2 separate regions of the Homo sapiens genome follow, and region 1 is linked to region 2. The links come from fine-mapping of genetic effects on gene expression. Tissue or cell type: unexposed skin. Region 2 holds a variant in brackets; the other region holds the start of a gene. All regions are shown on one strand. Distances are between the middles of the regions.

Region 1 (8,101 bases), 740 kb before region 2:
GAGACGTGCCTGGCAATGGGCAGTGTCTATGTTCCATTACTTCTACCCAAGGAGCAGCCACAAGTCCCTGGAGGGGGTGCCAGAATTGACTCCTGAACTGCAACTGCTCTCACCTCCTTAGGCCAGGCTAGGGAAGGAAGAGCTCTTTAAAATAAAGTAACGTGCCATGGAGGCCCTTTTCAGAGGGGACTGAAAGTCATCTCTCCTGTTGCCCTGTGCACACACCAGTCATGTCCTTACCCAGGAAGAGTCTTGCCACCTTTCAGCTGAGAAAAGCCATCAAACACCGTCCTTTCTGCAGTCCTTCTTGAGTCAGCTCTTGCCCCACCTGCCCTCAGAGTTCCTCCAGGTCTGAGCTCGGAGGCCAATGATGGGAAAGGTAAAAGCCTCCCAAGCCCTCAGGTGTGGCTTTAAATTTTATCAAGCGGGGGCGTGCCTGTGGGAGTGGAGGAGGTGCAGTACATCCCTCAGTCCACCAGCCCCTAGTGCCCTGAGGAGCTGGGGACTAGACTCCAGAGAAAACCCAGTACAAAGCACAGACCAGCAGTGGGTCCTGCTTCTTCCTCCCCACAAAGCCCTGGGACCAAATCCGCTTCCATCCCCACCCACACCCTCCGGGTCCAGACTGTCCTTGCAGTCACTCAACCTACAAGTCTACTATGCAAAGGGTAAAGTGTTGCCCAAATGCAGGCACTGGGAGCTGGAGGTGCTGCATGGGCGGGTTCCATGTTCATTCACTGCTTACCCACTCCCTGCTGTGAACCCTGAGGCCCAAATCCCCAAACAACCTGCAGGTCTCATCTTTGGCCTCTCAGGTGCTACCTCCTCCTCCAGGAAAAAGTGCGGACCTAGAACCCAGCCTACCCCAACACCCTGAGACACCGTGATGGCACGAGCCCCTCAGCTCAGGCCAGAGCCACATTTCAGTTCCACACTTAGAGCCTGGAGAAACACAAGCCCTGCCTCAGGAGCTATGAGACCTTCCCATTGGGCCTCAGCTTCCTCTCACCTGTAACGGGGGTTGGCTTGGAGCTGATGCATCAATCCCTGACTCAGACGTAGTGAGAAGCAAAGAAAGAATGGTAGTGATGACAGAATACCCTGCCTCCGCTTATTGAGGACCTACTCCTTAAAGGCTCACAGACTTGGCTAGGCATGGCAGCTCATGCCTGTAATCCCAACACTTTGGGAGGCCAAGGGGGGCAGATCATTAGAGATAACGAATTCAAGACGAGCCTGGCCAACATGGTGAAACTCCATCCTACTAAAAATACAAAATTAGCCGGCCATGGTGGCGCATACCTGTAATCCCAGCAACTTGGAAGGCTGAGGCAGGAGAATTGCTTGAACCCAGGAGGTAGAGGTTGCAGTGAGCTGAGATAGGACCACTGCACTACAACCTGGGCAACAAGAGTGAAACTCCGTCTCAAAAAAAAAAAAAAAAAAAAAGTCCAGGTCCTCACTCCTTTCCCCTATGTAGTAATAGCAGCCACCCCCCTAAGTCAGGACCACACAGCCCTAATAACACAGACTGGCTCAGCCTCCCCGCCTCCAGAAGAGTCTCAAAGGAGGGGTGGCCATAGCCCTCAGGACTGAGTGTGCATTATAGACAGCACAGCCCCACCAGGACCTACATCACAATCAAAGCCATGAGTTACCACGACTTGGTCTGGTCAGAAACATGGCCTTCCCCTGCCAGGACTCACAGTGTGGCCAGAAATACACACACCCTTCCCCCAGGACTCATATCATGATCAAAGCCATGGCTCCAGGCTGCTGCAGCAGGATGAGCACAAAGAACTCTCCCCTTGCTTATCATACATAAGCAGAGGCAGGATCACAGGGAGACCCAGGCATGTCACTCAATCTCCTGATCTCCATTTCACTGTCTGTTAAACTAGATGTTCTCTGAGGTGCTGGACAAGCTGCAAATTCATTACAATGTTTCAGTTACTCCTAAAACAAATCTTTCTTTTCCTGGTAATAAAAAAGTTGCAGGCCAGGACCCACGCCTGTAATCTCAACACTTCGGAAGGCCGAGGCCAGAGGATCCACTTGAAGCCATGAGTTGGAGACCAGCCCAGACAACATAGCAAGACCCTGTCTCTACAAAAAAAAAGAAAAAAGAAAAAAAAAAGCTGGGTGTGGTGGCGCACCTATAATCCCAGCTAATCGGGAGGTTGAGGTGGGAGGATTGCTTGAGCCCAGAAGGTCGTGGCTGCAGTGAACTATGATCGCGCCACTGCACTTGCTCCAGCTTGGGCCACTGAGCGAGACTCATCTCTTAAAAAAAAAAAAAACTGCCAGCTCATTTAAGGACAGGCAGAAACTCAAGGAAGCGGTTTAAACACCTGGGACCCTAGGAGAGGTGAGCCCCTTAACAATTCCATGAATTTCAGCATTCTCCTAGCTGTTTCACTCTCCAGTTTTACTGTACACCCATGACCCCAGGTGGATACTTACATGTCCCGGGACACAGACACAGGCCCACACGGCATACTTTTCTGTCTCTATCCTGAGCACATCTCTGCTGAAGTTCCTGCCCAAGCTCAGCTTTAAGGCCAAGAGGCACCCTTCCTCCTGTTGGAAAACTAGCCCACCTTTGAAAGTTCTGGGCTCAGAGAGGCCAAGTAATTCACCTAGGGCCACACAGCTCAGTTCCAGTCCAACAACCCGGCCCACACTCCTTGGCCAGGAGAGAGGGAAGGGCCTGGGGTGCCCACAGGGTCCTCCCCAGACTGGGGGCGATGGGGATTGGAGAGGGAAGCGAGGGGGCCAGAGCCCTCCCCGAGGTGATGGTGGCCAGACCTAGCCACCGCCAAGCCGATATGCCCCCACACACCTGTCCCCGCCCCCTGCTCTGCCACACCTGTCTCTGGCCCACCACTGTCACGACCGCCTCACCTGTCCCCAGCAGCCTCCCCAGTCACGGCAACCTCACCTGTCCCCGGTTCCCCATCTGTCTCCCGCCCCTTCTCCATGCGAGACCCCCGCCCAGGCCGCCCTACCCACCCATCCCGGTGCACCTCCCACCTCCTCCCAGAGGACCCCGCCTCACCACCGCGCTGGCAAGCGTGCAGAGCGGGCCGCCCATTGCTGTATGGCATCCAGATCTTCTTCAGGGGGTTCTGTGTCAATTCCCGTGGGGACGCCATCCCGGGGCCGGGATGAGTCGGACTGCGCCGCTTCCAACCCAGCAGCCGGGCCACCTCGGGCCACCCGAGGTCCCGCCCCTTGGGCCCCGCCCCTCCTCAAGCCGCGACAGCCCATGTCTATCTTCCCGCAGGTCCCGCCCCAGAGTGAGTAGGCTCCGCCCCAGCTGAAAGGGGCCCGGCCTCCGACCACGCATGCCCAACTCACCTACCCGCCCGTTTTGGAACAAGTGGGCCCAGTTCTTCAGGCCAGGATCGAGAATGCGCATGCTCAACTCCGGATTGTACTGGTCCCGCCCCAGTTCAAGGCCCGGATTGTGCAGGCCCGCCCCGGATGCGCAAACTCAGCTCTCCCAACCTGCCCGCGCTGATTTGCATAGGCCCCACCTACGGGCTCCGCCCTGGCGCTGCATCCCTGAGCAGCGGCACGCGTGAATTCTGCTACCTCCTTGCTAGGGAGCCCAGGGCCCCCAGGAGGGAGGGGTTTTCATGCAGTGGGACGAGGCCTACGTGACCCGCACGGCCAGGTTGGTCAGAGCCGACAGGGGCCAGTAGGCCTGCAGTCCCAGCCGTCAACTCCGCTGCGCCCTCCTGCCCCTCCTCGGGGTCCCCCTTGACTGCTCCGAGCCCCGGGACTCTTCCGCCGTCCATAGGAGCATGCTCAACCACGCTGGAAAAGCTCTTTTACCTCATGGATAGAGACTCAAAACACATTTCAATATTGTTCCTCTTTCTTTGCTTTGGCTGCTGGGAGCAAATGCGTGGGACTTTTTTTTTTTGAGACGGAGTTTCGCTCCTGTTGCCCAGGCTGGAGTGCAATGGCGCTATCTTGGCTCACTGCAACCTCCGCCTCCCGGGTTCAAGGGATGCTCCTGCCTCGGGTTCCCAAGTAGCTGGGATTACAGGCGCCCACCACCACGCCCTGCTAATTTTTGTATTTTTAGTAGAGGCGGGATTTCACCACGTTGGCCGGGCTGGTCTCGAACTCCTGACCTCAGGTGATACGCCCTCCTCAGCCTTCCAAAGTGCTGGGATTACAGGCGTGAGCCACCGCGCCCGGCCGTGCGTGGCACTTAGTAACCAAGTACTTTGGGTACTCACTAAGCCCTGGGAGTATCTTAATCGTCTTTCCAGAATTTCATTTTTTACAATTTTTTTTTGATTTTTAGTATTTTGGTTTTTTTAACTAAAGTTTTACATATTTTTTGAAAATAATATGTTAATAACATTTTCTCTTCAGGAAAATGGGATGTGCACATTGTCTATCTTACAGTATTACAGTATAAATTAAGTATGTCAATCTCTAAGAAATTCATTTTAAAATACGTTATGGTTGCCTTTTACTATATTTGTATCTCCCTCTTGTCTTTGAAAATGCACTGGGGACAAGGAACAAGGGAGAGATCCAGAAGTTCCTAAACCCCTGGCTCACTTTCTTGTTTGGCCCCCACCGGACTCCTGCAGTTTCCCGCCTCCTCGGGATCCCCAGCCCCGCCTCTCCAAGCTTTGTACACTCTCTGCCCCAGCCCCCACCAACACGGCTTCAACCTGAGCCACACTGCCCTCTAGCGATGTCATCCACAACACCCCTGGCAGGTGCCCTGCATCCTCAGGTTCTCTCTGCCCAGTGTGTACCCAGCCAGGAGCCAGGTGTTGAGGGCATGGGACTGGCAACAAGACTGGCCTCGTGGGCTATAGGTGTAGCACCCCCTCCCATGCCCTCCCTGCCACAGCCCTGCCTTGGATCAGTCCAAGTCCACCCAGCTCTTTAAAGCTTGGCAAGGACCCTTAAGATGACTGACACAGATGTCTTGCCCACTTCATAGGAACTGAAGATTCCAAAGGTCCACATGCTGGAAGCCCATCTGGACCCTCCCCCAAACCAGCTCTAGCTGCTTGCCCTGGGAACACCCTGCCCCAGGCAGAGTCAACAACTTCCTCCTTCCTCATCCTCCTTTTGCAGTATCTACCCGCTTATTCCTCCACCCCAGTCCCAGCAGATCTGAGCACATCCATGGGCGGCTCCTGATGAGCTGGGTGCCCCTCGTGACCTGCTCCCTACTTCTCCAAAGCCACTCATTCTGTTCGTGACACAGCCAGCCCTCTTGTCTTCTGGCCACTGCCAAGGCCATCTTGGGGCCACCGTGGCCTCTGAGACCTCATTACCACATGCCCACACCCTGTCTAACCCGCAGCACTCATTGCAAAAGCTATCTCCTCTGATATCTACAGACACCCAGCACCTCCTCTGGCCTGTCCATTCTCTTCCCAGACCTCCTGGGATGCTAATCAAGGGCTGGGGGTAGAGGACAGCTGGCCTGGGCAGGGGGCCAGGGCTATCTCTGGGAAGGCATCCTCACACCCAGACAGGATGAGCCTGGTTCCCAGGAAATGCAACAGCTCTGCACCTTCCTCTCTTCCCCAGAAAGTCTACCCGTGGCTGACCCAGGCACCCTCCTTCAAGGCCCTATGTCCAGCTGGAAGGCCACAGGTCAACATCAGGAGATGCCTGGGGTTCCTCCCCAAGGCCACCGTCCACATCTGCTCTGAGGATATTCTCCATCTCCCCTCCCATGGCCCTGTTTGTCAGGTGGGAAACTGAGGGTCAGGAAGAGGGAGAAGGGTCCAAGATCACAAAGCGAGTCCACAGTGCAGCATGGACTCAGCTCAACTCCCAGCCTTCCAGACCTTGCCTGCCACACTACAGTGGAATCGCACAGTCCACCTTCACATGTGTGCTCCCACTCCCCTGTGTCCTCTCCATGGAGATGCTGTCCCAGCGTCTGCTCTCTCAGCATCAGCGGATGCCCGGTAGAATCTCTGGCCCTCATGGCTTTTTCCTCCTCAGTATATCCGAAAGTGAGCCAGCTGTTCTGTCCCAGGCGTGGGAAGTATGCTGGGATGTCTGTACACACGTGTGAACATGTTCTGCTCAGCCTCTGCCCACCATGAACCTGGCTGGCCTGACCCTGGTTGGCTCCCAGGGTGCCCTCTGCACTGACCACTGGACTTCCTCCCAGTGTCCCAGCCTAGAAGCCATGTGGTGGCCAGTTCTCAAAGCTCAAACTCTTCCCAGTCCCTGTATCTACTGGCCAGTCCTGACAGAACTGCCAAACCATCCCACCACACACACACACACACACACACACACACACACACACACACACACACACACAGTCTCGCTCCTGTTACCCAGCCTGGAGCACATAGTGCAATCATGGCTCACTGCAGCCTTGAACTCCTGGCCTCAAGCGATCCTCCCGCCTCAACCTCCCAAAGCCCTGGGTTTATAGCCATTAGCCACCACATCTGGCCCACAAACCACCCTTTGCAGCATAAAGACCCAGGGGTTTCAGTGCATGCCACACAGGCCCACACACTGATGCACACAGAGACACTGGCACAGCTGCACATGCACACACAGACGCACACACACTCACAAGTCCTGCACCCCAGCATGTGCAGAGACAGGCAGGCTGCAGTGGGGCCTGCTGCTCTCTGCTGCCTCCCTTCCCACATATATCTCTCCACCCCCAGCCCTGCTGTCCACTGGGAGGTTCAGGAGTTTCCAGGAATTCCAGCTTCCTCTGGCCATTTCCAGCAAAGGATTGTCCCCTGTGTCTCCCTGGGCCCAGGGCTCACAAGGAGTGTGAAGTTCTGACTTCAGGTTATAGAACCATGTCACCAAGCAGCCTGGGAACCCTGATCTGCACTTCCTCCTTCCAGCCTGCCACAGGGCGTACAGTAGGTGCTTAGGGATTCAGGACCAGCAAGGGCACACAGAAAGGGTTCAGAGAGGTTCATGACCAAACTGAGTACACAGCAGGTGTTCAGAGAAGCTCAGGACTGGCACAGGGCACACAGCAGACACCCTAGAAGTGCTGGTTTAAGGGCTAAAGCCACATCATGTGAAACCCATCCTAAATGAGCCTCTAGACTTCCCCAAACTGGTGTGACCCCAAGAGGAAACCTGGACAAACATGATCCCTTGGAGGCCAGCAAAGAGCAGAGCAGGAGGGCCTGGGCAGCGCCAGCTGGCGGTCCCTCCCCCTGGGCTGGAGGAAGACACTATTTATAGTTCCCCCTTGGCCCAGCCCCCTCTCCCTTGCAGGGCGACAGTTTTCCCCCTCCTTCGGGCCACTGACAGATGAATGGCCCTCAGAGCACCCCTAAACCAGGAGAGACCCCCCAACACTCTCGCACCCCTCCAGCACCACCCTGACTTCATCCAGGTCTTTCCCTAACCCTCCACCCTCCCCACGCTGTCCCGTGCCTACCCCGCCTGCTGCTCCCCGGCCCCAGGTCGGTCAGGGAGCTGCCTCCTAACGAGCCTCTGTCCATCCTGCAACCAAACTGGCCAGGGCCACTGCCCCCTGCAGCTCCAGAGTGGGGTAACCCCGCCTAGCACTCTGAAGAGAGAGAAGCGACTCCTGCGGCTCCTGCAGCCCCGCCTCCCCAGCCCACTGTAGGCCCGCCCCCACAGGGCTGCTTACAACTGTGAGGGCAGCGCCAGTGCCCCCACTCCAGTCAGCCGGCCACGCTGTGGCCAGTACAGTCTCCCTCTCCCGCCAGAGCTGCCCATGCCACCCAGCGTCTGCCTTCATGTCCACCTAGAGTTGTCTGCACAGCCCAGAGTGCCTGCCCCCTCTGCGGGCAAGCCCGTCCACACTGCCTGGAAAGTCAGTTCTGTCTCTGGCCCAGCAATGGAGTTGGGCTGTGAAATCAGGCAAAACCTAGTCCTTCCAAACCAAGGGACCAGGTCAGTTAACCGGGGAGCTAGGGAGGAAGGCAGAGAAGCCAGGTATGACTCACCCACCATGTGTCGCGGCCTGGGTGCACACCACTGGGATTCTCGCACATCCCATCCTTCAGTCGCTTTGTGTTTATTGAGCACCTCCTGCTGCAGGACCTCCATGTCTGCTACATACACAATGCTCACAGGCTTGCTG
Region 2 (8,103 bases):
ATGTCATCCCGAGGCATGATGTGGTTTAAACCTTCATCCATTTGGAAAATTTTGTGGAATCGGTGATTATACACATCTGCGACCACCATCTAAGAATGAACAGTAACAGAAAGACCACAGAATGGCTAAGAGTGCCCCTACTAACTGCTTAAAACCCAGAAACAAATGAAAAAAAAAATACTCATACTCAAATGTTGCCTCTAGAGAAACCACCACACAAACAGCCCCAGAGAGCTGAGGGCCAAGGCCCAAGGGGGAGCAGCATGGCTGCCATCAGAATTGAACATGCTGGTAGCATCTGCCCTCGACTGGCAGGAAGGGCGAGGAGTGTGGTGCTAACCAGAAACCAGCAGTTGTCCAGAGCCTCTGGAGTATTCCATAGTCTGCAGTCTCTATGCCACCCTCAGTGCACAGATCTGACAGCAGAGCCCTACTCCTGGTCCTTTGACCACGGCTAGTGTGAACCCAATGAAGGAAAGATAGTGTTTCCTGGAGCTGGAAGGGACAGTCTCAGTCACAATGTGCATAGTGAGTGAGGCATCCAGACACACACAAATAATCACATTTGTGCTGGCAATAACAACAACCCCAAAAAGTGGCTTCAAGGTTGAAAGTAAACTCCAAATGCTATGAAGTATCCCAAATAGACCGAGTGCCACTGATCACCCCGCCTTACATTTTCTGCAGCAATGCCAGACAGCCTGGAGAGAGCCTCGCACAGGTCGGACACAGCCCCCATCAGCGGCACAGTCACACGGTACTGCAAGACAGAGATGGTCAAGGTCACAGGGGTGCCCCACAAAGGGTGCGAAATGCATTAGGAGAAGCAGGCATCACTAGGGGCAGAGGAGCCCTTCTAGAAACAATGTATGGTGAGGTCAGGGTACAGATGAGTCAGAAGCAGAGCAAATAAGCAGGACCTCTATGTCAGCATCCTCCTCAATACACAGGCAGCAGCATGGGGGCTAGGCCATCTCTTTCTCTTCCAAACATTGCTTCATTTTATTCTTAATTCTTTAGAGTACTTTCTGAAGAACTGCTGAAATTATACAAATTCAAATTGCCATCTGGTCCTACCTTTTTATTTTATTTTTATTTTTTGTAGAGACAGGGTCTCAAACTCCTGGCCTCGAGCAATCCTCCCGCCTCAGCATCCCAAAGTGCTGGGATTACAGGTGTTGGCCACCAAGCCCGGCCTCAACTTTCTTTTTTTTCTTTTTTCTTTTTTTTCTGAGACACAGTCTTGCTCTGTCACACAAGCTGGAGCGCAGTGACGCGATCTTGGCTCACTGCAACCTCCACCTCCCGGGTTCAAGCGATTCTCCTGCCTCAGCCTCCTGAGTAGCTGGGATTACAGGCGCGCACCACCACGCCTGGATAATTTTTGTATTTTTAGTACAGACAGGGTTTCACCATGTTGGTCAGGGTGGTCTCGAACTCCTGACCTCGTGATCTGCCCGCCTCGGCCTCCTGAAGTGCTGGGATTACAGGGGTAAGCCACCGTGCCCAGCCTGCCTCAACTTTTTTTTTTTTTTGAGACGGAGTCTCGCTCTGTCGCCCAGGCTGGAGTGCAGTGGCGCAATCTTGGCTCGCTGCAAGCTCCGCCTCCCGGGTTCACGCCATTCTCCTGCCTCAGCTGCCCGAGTAGCTGGGACTACAGGCGCCCGCCACCATGCCTGGCTAATTTTTTGTATTTTTAGTAGAGACGGGGTTTCACCGTGTTAGCCAGGATGGTCTGGATCTCCTGACCTCGTGATCTGCCCGCCTCGGCCTCCCAAAGTGCTGGGATTACAGGCGTGAGCCACCGCGCCCGGCCCTCAACTTTCTTTAGAGACAAAGAAACCAAAACCAGAAGGCTAAGCAATACAATTACTCAGTGAGCCATCAGCAGGGTAAGACACTAAGACCTGCTGCTCACACCTCTCATCTGGCCTAATCTTCTGTACAGGCTGTCCTAGGTTATGTGAGGGTATATCTGAGTACGAAAAGAACCGTGCTTCTGGTTCCCCAACATTCAGATTCAAGAACCACTTAGTAGATCAGGTTACTTTAGTCGCGTGAATGAAGTGTGGCCAAAAAAGTGACAGAGGCCGGGTGCGGTGGCTCACGCCTGTAATCCCAACACTTTGGGAGGCCAAGATGGGCAGATTACTTGAGGTCAGGAGTTCTGGCCAACAAGGTAACATCCTGTCTCTACTATGTCTCTACTAAAAATACAAAAATTAGCTGAGCGTGGTGGTACACGCCTGTAATCCCGGCTACTGAGTGGCTGAGGTAGGAGAATCGCTTGAACCTGGGAGGAAGACGTTACAGTGAGCTGAGATCATGCCACTTCACTCCAGCATGGGCAACAGAGCGACTCTGTCTCAAAAAAAAAAAAAGTGACAGAGAAGCAAAGAAGCTGCAAAGACCTTCACAATAGGCCTTAAATGATATGGGATTAGACAAAGGTCTGATGGAGGCCAAGGGCCCATACCCAGGCAAGTACCAAGGGGACTCAGAGGCAGCCAATGCAGCAGATAGGAGCAGTCCCACTGGGATCTGGAGACCACTTGCAGTGAGGGGTGCCATAAGGGTGTGGATTCTGTCACCTGAGTAGGTCTGCAGTGAGGGTCAGCAGGAACCAGGAAAACCTCCATAACTCGATCTTTCTTCAAGGGCAGTGGCAGCGTTAGATAGCAAAATGGGTCAAAGGTCACAGAAACCTTAGCACATTCTGGGCAAACCAAAGTAGATTTGAAGAGGCCATGGAAAGTATCCACAATCACAGAATCATTCCTCAACCTGTGATTCTCCCAGGCTTCCTTTGCCACCACCTGCGTCAAAGGGATAAACAGGACATTCTCAACACCTCTCAGCCCCTTGCCCCTGCATCCAGAATGACTCACAGCAAACCTGGAGATGAATCAGGTGGCAATCTGTACAGCCAAGAGCTTGATCCAGGACAAACAAGGCCAGGACTACTCTTAGTGTATCATACTCATACCACATGCCAGCTCTACGCCCAATCCCCACCCCAACACACATATATATATTTCACATATATGTTTATATATATACATATTTCAAATATATATTATATTGATTGATTGAGACATGGTCTTGCTCTGTCGCTCAGGCTGGCGTGATCATGGTTCACTACAGCCTCAACCTCCCGGACTCAAAGCGATCTTCCTGCCTCAGACTCCCAAGTAGCTAGGACTATAGGCATGCATCACCATGCCTGGCTAATTTTTTTAGGTTTGGTAGGGATGGGGGTCTTACTATGTTGACCAGACAGTTCTAGAGCTCCTGGCCTCAAGTGATGCTCCCACCTCAGCCTCCAAAGTGCTGGAACCGCAGGGGAAAGCCACTGCGCCTCGCCCTAATCCTCACACTTAATAAGGTTGGCAACATAGGACCTATTGGAAACTAGGGGTCTGTGTGTCCTGATAAGAAACAGAAGCCCGGAGAACACTATCGGTACAGAGACATGGCCAGGGCAAGGAAAGCCCCCCTATATGTTTCCAGTGATCTAAAGTAAGGTTTTTGGCGGGGCACGGTGGCTGACGCCTGAAATCCCAGCACTTTGGGAGGCCGAAGCAGGCGGATCACCAGAGGTCAGGAGTTCAATATCAGCCTGGCCAACATGGTGAAACCCCCTCTCTACTAAAAATACAAAAATTTGCTGGGCATGGTGGCACGTGGCTGTAGTGCCAGCTACTTGAGAGGCTGAGACAGGAGAATCGCTTGAACCCGGGAGGTGGAGGTTGCAGTGAGCCAAGATCACGTCATTGCACTCCAGCCTGGGCAACAGAGTGAGACTCCATCTCAAAAAAAATAAATAAATAAATTTTAAAAATAAAGTTTTTATCTATACTACAGCTCAGCTAACTCATAGTTTTTCTAAGAAGATCTAAATTTTACTTTAAAGCATTCATATTGATTATCCCAATGTGATAGGGTAGCTGAAATACTAAAATCCTCTTGCACTGATCAGATAATCAAGGCAAAAGGTATAAATGTCCTAATGATACTAATAACAAATTAAGTAATCATGGATGGATTTTATTGTGAGCAATAACAATCTTAGGGGTCCTCACTATAGGTACTTTACAGTTTTCAGAGTGTTCTTAGTCCCTAGTTCACCAGTGAAATATCAAACAAGCTCACTCTAATTTGAAAAAGCCCAAGAGGAAGCCTTAGGAGTAACTAGGGTACAGTGCCTCACGCCTGTTGTAATCCCAGCACTTTGGGAGGCTGAGGTGAGAAGACTGCTTGAGCTCAGGAGCTGGAGACCAGCCTAGACAACACAGCAAGTTTCTGTCTCTATTTAAAAAAAAAAAAAAAAAAAGCAGTAACTACAGTTAGCCCCTTTCTGACCAGAGACCATATCCCTATAACTAGCTACAGTGAGAAGCAACCAGGGCCCTGGCAACAACACTCAAAGACCAGAAGAATATCCCTGCACTCTCAATAGGAGGCAGCTTCTTTGGCATATTATCATTCAGACATCATTAATGGCATACCGCATCTGGCCGCCCATTGGCATCCTTCAGCTCCAAGTAGGGCTTTTTCTTTACCCGGTTCAGATCTTCATGCAATCCATCTAGAAGAAAGGCCAGCAGCTCCTGAGAATCTTGTTGCTGGTAGCCAGAAAATTGAGGAGCAAAACGTCCTACTTGAGTCTACAACAAAAGCAACTGTATCAGAAGGCAT[A/T]ATACGTAAAGAACTAGTTAAATCAAAAAAGAATTGCCATCAAAAATAGCTCTGAGGAGTTAGCTGGGGCAGTGAGAGAGAACACTTGGTTGAGTAGTCCAATTAACTCCTGAAGAGCCTACAGGAGGCCAGTGGTTCCCACCAGAAAGAAGGCCTAGATCAGAGAGCCAGGAGGATGAACCTGGAACCTGGGCCACTGCCCTAAGTCCTAAGGAGGAAGGGTGGAGTACCCTGAGTAACCACACCCAAGTACTGACATGAATCCCTCTCCAACATGTCCTTCTTTGGTTCAGAGTCTTAAACTCCATAAGGACATTACAAACAATACTTTCATCAGCTGGAGGAATCCTCCTGTACATAACAGCCCTCAGGTCCCTAAATACTGTCTGTCCAGTAATACTCTCCACCAGTTATTCTGAGAGTATGGTCCCCAGTCGCAGCATTAGTATCACCTGGGAGCTTAGTAGAAAAGCACATTCTCAGGCCCCACACCAAACCTATTCAATCAGAAACTCTGGGGATGGGTCTAGCAGTCTGTGTTGTATTAAGCACTCCCAGAGATTGTGATGCATCCTATGGAGAACCAGCCAGGCACGGTGGCTCATGCCTATGATCCCAGAATTTTGGAAGGCTGAGGCAGGCAGATCACCTGAGGTTGGGAGTTCAAGACCAGCCTGGCCAACATGGTGAAACCCCGTCTCTACTAAAAATACAAAAATTAGCTGGGCATGGTGGTGCACACCTGTAATCCCAGCTACGCAGGAGGCTGAGGCAGGAGAATCACTTGAACCCAGGAGGCGGAGGCTGCAGTGAGCCGAAATTGTGCCAGTACGCTCCAGCCTGGGCGACATAGCAAGGCTGTCTCAAAAAAAAAAAAAAAAAAAAAAAAAAGGAGAACCACTGTTCTACACCTGTTCTCTAATACCATAGCCACTAGCCACATATGGCAATTGAAATTTACATTAATTACAATTAAAAACCATTAAAAATTCAGTTCCTCGGTCAAATGAACCACATCTCAAGTGCTCAGAGGTGCTTGAGCTGGTAGCTACCAAAACACAGTGCAGATATATAACACATCCATCACTGAGGAAGCTCCACACTTCCCTAATACCCCTAAACACTACCTTCCAGTTGTTTATTTACATTAGCTTCAGCACAGTGTGTTGCCACCCAATTCTTTTTTATTTTTTTTTCTGGGACAGGGTCTCACTCTGTTGCCAGGCTGGAGTGCAGTGGCGCAATCTCAGCTCACTGCAACCTCCGCCTCCCAGGTTCAAGCAATTCTCATGCCTTGGCCTCCCGAGTTGCTGGGATTACAGGCATATGCCACCACGCCTGGCTAATTTTTGTATTTTTAGTAGAGATGGGGTTTCACAATATTGGCCAGGCTGGTCTTGAACTCCTGACCTCAAGTGATCCACCCACCTTGGCCTCCCCATGGGCTGGGATTACAGGTGTGAGGCACCGCACCCAGCCGTTGCCACCCAATTCTAGTTTCTTTGTGACTTAGTATGTGAACAGTCATTTATATATTTCCCAGGGATTCATGTGACCAAGGGGATGAAAGATAATTAGTTTTCAATTTCAACAAACCACCTGAGATTTTAGTTTTCTCACTGAGCTAAGGTGCTATTTTTTTTCCTCTCTGAATCATAAATATGCATGTCTTTTCTTATCATATGCTTCATGAAGCTCCATGAATCCCAGTGGTACAGGCTAAATAGGATCTTTCAGATTTCAGCTTAAATCTGCTGAGCGGGAGGGAGCAAAGCACCTCCACCTCAGCAGGAAAAAGCAGTTGGGGCAATGGAAAGCCCAAGTTGCTCCGAGTGTATCCATGTCTTCTCCTTAAACCTTCCTGGCTGAGGGACCCCAGTGATAACTGCCCCTCACATCACCTTCCAAGAATGTGAGCCCAATTCCTGACTTAGGGGGTCCCAACTCAAACCACGAAGCCTGTAGAATCCAGGCTCAGAGAACCTGGAAACAGCCTTCAGATGATACTAGAAATTAAACTGAATTTTCATTTTTTTTAGAGACAGGGTCTCTGTCGCCAAGGCTGGGTACAGTGGCACAATCACAGCTCACTGCAGCCTTGACCTCCCAGGCTTAAGTAATTCTCCCACCTCAGCCTCCCTGGTAGCCGGGACTACAGGTACATCACCATGTCCAGCTAATTTTGTTGTTGTTGTTGTTGTTGTTGTTGAGACAGAGTCTCACTCTGTCGCTCAGGCTGGAGTGCAGTGGCGTGATCTCGGCTCACTGCACCCTCCACCTCCCAGGTTCAAGCAATTCTCCTGCCTCAGCATCCTGAGTAGCTGGAATTACAGGTGCGCACCACCACGCCTGGCTAATTTTTGTATTTTTGGTAGAGACGGGGTTTCACTATGTTGGTCAGGCTGATCTCGAACTCCTGACCTCGTGATCTGCCCGCCTCAGCCTCCCAAAGTGCTGGGATTACAGGAATGAGCCACCACGCCTGGACTTTTTTGTTGTTGTTGTTGTTTTTTCTTTGAGACAGAGTCTCGTTCTGTCACCCAGGCTGGAGTGCAGAGGCGCAATCTCGGCTCACTGCAAGCTCTGCCTCCCGGGTTCACGCCATTCTCCTTCCCCAGCCTCCCGAGTAGCTGGGACTACAGGCGCCTGCCATCACACCTAGCTAATTTTTTTTTTATGTATTTTTAGTAGAGACGGGGTTTCACCATGTTAGCCAGGATGGTCTCAATCTCCTGACCTTGTGATCCGCCCGCCTCAGCCTCCCAAAGTGCTGGGATTACAGGCGTGAGCCACAGCGCCTGGCCCAGATCCCATCTTAATCCCAAAATGCAACGAAAGGAATGCCTCATAACAACACTAAACCACTCTCCCCAAAGTGGGAAAAAGGAAGTACGGGAGAGTATCCCTTATCCAAAAATCTGAAATCCAAATGCTTAAAGATCCATAACCTAACACTGACATGATATTCAAAGGAAATGCTCACTGAAACATTTTAGATTTTGGAATGGGGATGCTGAACTAGTAAGCATAATGTAAATACCATAAAAAAAAATCCTAAAAAACCTGAAGTCCCGAAACATTTCTGGTCCCAGGCATCTATATACAGGGATACCCAACCCATATATATATATGTCTACCTACTTTGAACATGCGAGGTGCCACATGGGCGTCCCTTCCAGACCACATCTGCTTAATGAGTTCAGCATAGGCTTCTGCAATTTCCCCTTTCATCCCCAGAGGGTTGTCTCTGTTGATTTCGGCTTCATACTCATCTTTGAGAAAGTAGTCAGTCAGTGGTGCAGTGTTGCTCAAACACTGAAACAGAACATGATGAGGGCTTTACACACCTTCTAGACAGTACCAGAGATACAAGATAAATCAAGTTCTAAAGGGTCACTGAGGGAC

What was found. PIP is the estimated chance that this variant, and not a neighbour inherited with it, causes the effect.
Region 1: it holds the start of PFKFB4, and the variant in region 2 is fine-mapped to the expression of PFKFB4 in unexposed skin (GTEx, PIP above 0.99).

What each region holds. Positions count from the first base shown.
Region 1 is chr3:48,553,623-48,561,723 of GRCh38, forward strand. PFKFB4 (6-phosphofructo-2-kinase/fructose-2,6-biphosphatase 4) reads right to left here and starts at 3,181. Exons shown (of 14, transcript NM_004567.4): 1 at 3,059-3,181. The coding sequence starts at 3,155. It overlaps UCN2 (urocortin 2), which reads right to left. Exons shown (of 2, transcript NM_033199.4): 2 at 8,096-8,101. RefSeq lists enhancers at 3,584-3,673, 3,804-3,893, 5,644-6,585, 6,641-6,780.
Region 2 is chr3:49,297,876-49,305,978 of GRCh38, forward strand. It overlaps USP4 (ubiquitin specific peptidase 4), which reads right to left. Exons shown (of 22, transcript NM_003363.4): 9 at 7,840-8,013; 10 at 4,509-4,667; 11 at 2,592-2,816; 12 at 677-760; 13 at 1-89. Among named protein-coding and RNA genes, the nearest start is that of C3orf62, 25 kb to the left of the region's middle. RefSeq lists a silencer at 5,980-6,029. The variant A/T (reference allele first, on the strand shown) is at 4,699.